Linked DNA regions of Homo sapiens: region 2 is reported to be linked to region 1. Evidence: microRNA targets listed by miRTarBase, many of them from high-throughput screens and not tested one by one. Region 1 holds a microRNA gene; the other region holds the end of a gene's coding sequence.
What was found. Region 1 holds the annotated microRNA hsa-miR-6859-5p (GAGAGGAACAUGGGCUCAGGACA, at 1,247-1,269, shown strand). A microRNA usually pairs through its seed, bases 2 to 8, with sites in the 3' UTR of a target mRNA and lowers its output. Matches are read on the target gene's strand: a 7mer-m8 pairs with bases 2 to 8, a 7mer-A1 pairs with bases 2 to 7 and ends in A, and an 8mer does both.

Region 1 (3,149 bases):
TAAATACCATCCTCTGTGTGCCCTGGAGGCTGTCCTTCAGATAGCATGTACAGGTGGCAGCATAGGGCCTGTCCCTACTGAGAGTGCAGGGAACTCAGCACCGTCAACTCCTCGACCCTGCAGGTCAGATTATCCTTGTAGAGGCCCCCTGGATGGCACCAAGATCGGCCCTGGCAAGTAGGTGACCCTGACTTCAGAGCCCTTGCCTGAGGGCCTGGCCTGGCAGCTCTGCTGTTAGAAGCAGGAGGTGTGCAGAGGGTGGGGAGCAGCCCAGCCTCTGTGATCTTCTCCATGGCAGGATCTCCCAGCAGGTAGAGCAGAGCCGGAGCCAGGTGCAGGCCATTGGAGAGAAGGTCTCCTTGGCCCAGGCCAAGATTGAGAAGATCAAGGGCAGCAAGAAGGCCATCAAGGTAGTCCCCATACCCCTGTGTCCTGAGGCTACTGGGCAGTCCCTCCATTTCCCCGTGCCTCTGAGGCTGCCCAGTCTCTGCCCTGCTGCCCACCTGTACCTTGAGCTTTCTTCTCGCCCAGGCTTCCAACTCCACCCTCTCCTGCCAAGCAATCCTAGCCCTCTGAGCCTCTTGGGGCCCCCTCAGACTTGTCCCTGTGTCCACAGGTGTTCTCCAGTGCCAAGTACCCTGCTCCAGGGCGCCTGCAGGAATATGGCTCCATCTTCACGGGCGCCCAGGACCCTGGCCTGCAGAGACGCCCCCGCCACAGGATCCAGAGCAAGCACCGCCCCCTGGACGAGCGGGCCCTGCAGGTCTGCTGGCCGCGCATATAGCCTGTCACACACCAGGAGGACTGGATACTGGGGAGGAGCCGGGGCCACCATAGGGTTCTGTCCCCCAGAGGAGGCTGACTGGGATGGGATGGCAGCTGATTAGGCCCAGCACCAAATATTCACCATCCCTTGGCCATCCTGGCCCTCTCAGGAGAAGCTGAAGGACTTTCCTGTGTGCGTGAGCACCAAGCCGGAGCCCGAGGACGATGCAGAAGAGGGACTTGGGGGTCTTCCCAGCAACATCAGCTCTGTCAGCTCCTTGCTGCTCTTCAACACCACCGAGAACCTGTATGGCCAGAGGGCAGGGCCGAGGGGTGTGGGCGGGAGGCCCGGCCTGGCTTAGTGGGGACCCAGGGCATCAGACACAGGTACAGCACATAGGCCAGGAGCCAGGGGGTGACGGGTGGCTCGGCTCGGGAGGCCTGGGACCCCACAGTGCACGCTGTGCCCCTGATGATGTGGGAGAGGAACATGGGCTCAGGACAGCGGGTGTCAGCTTGCCTGACCCCCATGTCGCCTCTGTAGGTAGAAGAAGTATGTCTTCCTGGACCCCCTGGCTGGTGCTGTAACAAAGACCCATGTGATGCTGGGGGCAGAGACAGAGGAGAAGCTGTTTGATGCCCCCTTGTCCATCAGCAAGAGAGAGCAGCTGGAACAGCAGGTGGGAGGGGTGGGACAGAGGTGGAGACAGGTGCAGTGGCCCAGGGCCTTGCCAGAGCTCCTCTCCAGTCAAGGCTGTTGGGCCCCTTATTCCACCCATGGGAGGTGCACACAAGGTCTTGTTGGCTGCCCCTGCAGGTCCCTGTCACCTCTCACATGTCCCTGCCTAATCTTGCAGGTCCCAGAGAACTACTTCTATGTGCCAGACCTGGGCCAGGTGCCTGAGATTGATGTTCCATCCTACCTGCCTGACCTGCCCGGCATTGCCAACGACCTCATGTACATTGCCGACCTGGGCCCCGGCATTGCCCCCTCTGCCCCTGGCACCATTCCAGAACTGCCCACCTTCCACACTGAGGTAGCCGAGCCTCTCAAGGTAGGTGAGCTGGGTTCTGGGATGGGAGCTGGGCCGGGGACCTCCCTGGTCACACACCTTCTTCCCTAGACACCCCACACTTTGTGTTTCAGACCTACAAGATGGGGTACTAACACCACCCCCACCGCCCCCACCACCACCCCCAGCTCCTGAGGTGCTGGCCAGTGCACCCCCACTCCCACCCTCAACCGCGGCCCCTGTAGGCCAAGGCGCCAGGCAGGACGACAGCAGCAGCAGCGCGTCTCCTTCAGGTGGGAGCAGCTCTTTGAGGCCACCTGATTTCTGGCGTGCTCAGTGCACTCGGGTGGATTTTCTGTGGGTTTGTTAAGTGGTCAGAAATTCTCAATTTTTTGAATAGTTTCCATTTCAAATATCTTGTTCTACTTGGTTCATAAAATAGTGGTTTTCAAACTGTAGAGCTCTGGACTTCTCACTTCTAGGGCAGAGGGAGCCTGAACAAGTGAGGCTCTGGGTTCCCCATTCCTAATTAAACCAATGGAAAGAAGGGGTCTAATAACAAACTACAGCAACACATTTTTCATTTCAGCTTCACTGCTGTGTCTCCCAGTGTAACCCTAGCATCCAGAAGTGGCACAAAACCCCTCTGCTGGCTCGTGTGTGCAACTGAGACTGTCAGAGCATGGCTAGCTCAGGGGTCCAGCTCTGCAGGGTGGGGGCTAGAGAGGAAGCAGGGAGTATCTGCACACAGGATGCCCGCGCTCAGGTGGTTGCAGAAGTCAGTGCCCAGGCCCCCACACACAGTCTCCAAAGGTCCGGCCTCCCCAGCGCAGGGCTCCTCGTTTGAGGGGAGGTGACTTCCCTCCCAGCAGGCTCTTGGACACAGTAAGCTTCCCCAGCCCTGCCTGAGCAGCCTTTCCTCCTTGCCCTGTTCCCCACCTCCCGGCTCCAGTCCAGGGAGCTCCCAGGGAAGTGGTTGACCCCTCCGGTGGCTGGCCACTCTGCTAGAGTCCATCCGCCAAGCTGGGGGCATCGGCAAGGCCAAGCTGCGCAGCATGAAGGAGCGAAAGCTGGAGAAGCAGCAGCAGAAGGAGCAGGAGCAAGGTGAGCGGGCCCTGGAGCTTGCAGTCGGAGGGCCTTGGGCAAGATCGCCTCCTCCCCTCCAGCCCTGAGTCCACCGGGTGCTTTCTGCCCACCCCCTGCTCTTGCCAGCTGGCCCCTGCTTCCCCTAGGGCACATGCTGGAAGCCCTGGGCCGCCACCAGAGGTCCTCAGCCCTCCTGCCTGGGCTATGGCTCCTTCCTGGTTTGGGAGCCATAGTGGAGCTTTCCTCTCTAAGCTCACCCAGCTCAAACTGACAGGAGAATCTTCT
Region 2 (3,000 bases), not on the chromosome of region 1:
CTGCCCCACCCCCAATGTGCGGGCCTCCTAGGGAAGAATGTTATCTTGATTCTTATGGTAGTATAACCTTGTCATAGCCAGGTTAGCCACTCAGTTAATCAAGATGAACATCTCCTTTTTTTCAACAGGTGAACGGAAGAGTCCTTATGTTGCAGTATGCTGTATAGTAATGGCCTTCAGCATCCTCTTCATACAGTAGCTGGGGAAAATGCCAGAATGTAGTTGCCATCAGATTTGATTGTGAACAAGGACTGACTGCAGAAAATAATGGAAAGGATGTTTAACTCTTTTATCTCCGAACATTGAATGAGATAAATTTCCAGATGCTGTTCTCTATTTTAATGTTATTGGACCAATGTTCTGTATAAACAATTAAGATGTAACCATTTAATAGTCTGTAACAATCAACCTCAGTACTGTCACTACAATATTACATTCTGCAAATGTTATTCTGTTGTATCAGATACAAAATTTTAGTGAGGTATCTCTAAGGCACATAGTAGAAAACAAAATTGGTTAATTACTCAAGTTCCTTTCACTGTGATTTGGAAATGATTTAATCTTTATAGAATGAGAACCTTTTTTGGACTAGCTTTTTTATTAAAATGGCTCAATTTGTGTTGATAAGGATTGCATTAATATTTAATAGTGCTTGCTTTTCCTCTGGGCACACCATTTTGATCATTAACCAGAGTACCTCTACTCTTAGCAAACTCTAGTTTATGACAAGTATTTAAAATATTTAAAACAAGCTTATGCAGTTCTTAAGGACGAAGGTAAATGAGATGTAACTTAAAAATAGTATTGGGAAAATGTTGATAGTTAACATTAGTGGATTTAGACTAGCCAAATGACATAGTAGGCTCTGAAACATCTTGTCAAGTATATGTATTTTGTGCATGAATTTTTGCTGGAAAGCTGTCTTTCTCTGAAAAACACAACGTTCTTAGAATGAAAAGAACAATTATAAAATAATTATCCTATATGTGTTTTTCATTCTTTTTAGTGTCATGGCTTCAAAAATGAAACATTTATTTTAATTGCCGTAAAGGAACTGTATTTTTGTTTTGTTTTTTAACACAGCACTTTAAATCCAGTTTGTGTTTTGTCAACTTGAACTGGAATCTCTTTTGTTACTTTGGAGGTGATAAATAGTTTTCAAATCTGCTGATTTGTATACTGTGGCACAAGTATCTTTGAACTTTGATAGTGAAAGGAGACCTTCAACAATTTTTAGTCTAGGCGAGAGGAATATTAGGAATGTGACTTCTAAATTTTACAATAGAGCAGTTATTTTAAGGTCATGGTTAACATTTCTTAAGGTTCAACTAAAATTCAGTTAAAATTTCAGAGCTACGAGGAACTTAAATCTTAGCTAAAAATTACCTGTTGTAGATAGTATTAATTAGATTGTTTGCAGCTATTAATTCATCATAAAGATAAAATGAAGAAACTCTCCCTTTTTTTAAACAAAAAAAATTATTTCTAGATTAATAGGCTAGTAGTTATTTCTGCAGAAACAACGTATGGAACTGAAAGCCACCTATTTTTATTTTAGACTAATTTAAACCACTTGGAATGGATTCTAGGAAACATCTTAAGCTTGTGTGTTGCCTGTGGTGGTTTTTTGTTTGGGGGTGTTTTTTGGTTTTGGTTTGATTTTCTGTATTTTGTTATCTGGGGATTTTTTGTTTGTTTGTTTTGGTTTGGTTTTGGTTTTATATTTTTGGCATGTCTATGGCAGTTAAAAGTGGTATATTTTGCTTTAGATAGGGAATCAGGTTATAATCATTGTTCTTCCTCTAAACTGCCTCTTGGGCTTTACATCAGGTCAAGGATTTTTAGGGTTTCTCAAAAATAGGATTCTTGTCAGTGTATGCATGCTGAGTAAGTCACCTTTCTGGCTCTAATTTCTGGGTGGCCATCTGTTGTCCAGCTCTGCTGCCAACTGGACTTTCCGAAAGCCATGTCAACTAATTTTTTATATGCTAAGACAAATCGAATATGAAAAGAGGAAGAATATTCTAGATATTCTAAGACATTTCTTAATTTGGCATCTCAGAGGAGGTAGGTGGAAAGTAAAGGAAGAGATAATTTTGGGGGAAAATTTGTGGAAACATACAAAACGTTTTGCTTTGTATAGATGCTAAACAGAGTGGGAGGCAGCATATTTGTAACAACAACCATTCTGACCTTTTGAAACACAAGCTTTTGGAGAAGTCAGGGAGAGACACAGTATGAATAAAAGCAATTAACATTTTCTTTAATGTATATTTTTCAAAGAGGACCACGGAATCCTGTTCTCTAACCCAAGGGGCAGTGTAGGTGGTTTTAAGCCCACAGAATATTGAGATATTTCTCTTGTGGTTTTGGTGGGGTGGTGGGATGCAGAAGGTTATTAAAGATCAATTTAAGCATCAGATAGACTATCCCTTTTATTTTTTTAACTTTTAGGTTCAGGGGTACATGTGCAGGTTGTTATATAGGTAAACTCATGTCAAGTGGTTTTGTTGTACAGATTATTTTGTCACCCAGGTGCTAAGCCTAGTACCCAGTAGTTATTTTCCCTGCTCTTCTCCCTCCTCCCACCCTCCACCCTCAAGTAGGCCCCAGTGTCTGTTGTTCCTTTCTTTGTGTCCTTGAGTTCTCATCATTTAGCTCCTACTTCTAAATGAGAACATGTATTTGGTTTTCTGTTCTGTGTTAGTTTGCTAAGGATAATGGCCTCCAGCTCAGATGGAATATCTCTATCATATAGACCTGTTGTTACAGGGCAGGATCGGATGATGGACACTGAAGTCCTCAGCTTGCTAAGTTCAGTTGCTCTCCCTAGCCTCCTTTTGGCTTCAGAGTCTTTTGATTCCATCTATCCTGGTATTTTTTGTGTGCTGATGTTTAGTTCTGGATTGGCTTCAGCTGTGCTAATAGGAAGGGCGTTGTCTTTTCAAGCAATCTTAAAAGGTGGTCAATCAAAAGGCCAGAGTCTGAATCCCTTCTGTG

Region 2: miRTarBase lists TMEM167A as a target of hsa-miR-6859-5p. Seed matches in the 3' UTR shown: 7mer-m8 at 659-665 and 8mer at 1,798-1,805.

What each region holds. Positions count from the first base shown.
Region 1 is chr1:15,529-18,677 of GRCh38, reverse strand. MIR6859-1 (microRNA 6859-1) reads left to right here and starts at 1,242; the gene lies at 1,242-1,309. It also overlaps the pseudogene WASH7P.
Region 2 is chr5:83,054,283-83,057,282 of GRCh38, reverse strand. TMEM167A (transmembrane protein 167A) reads left to right here. Exons shown (of 4, transcript NM_174909.5): 4 at 129-3,000. The coding sequence ends at 199. Among named protein-coding and RNA genes, the nearest start is that of TMEM167A, 22 kb to the left of the region's middle.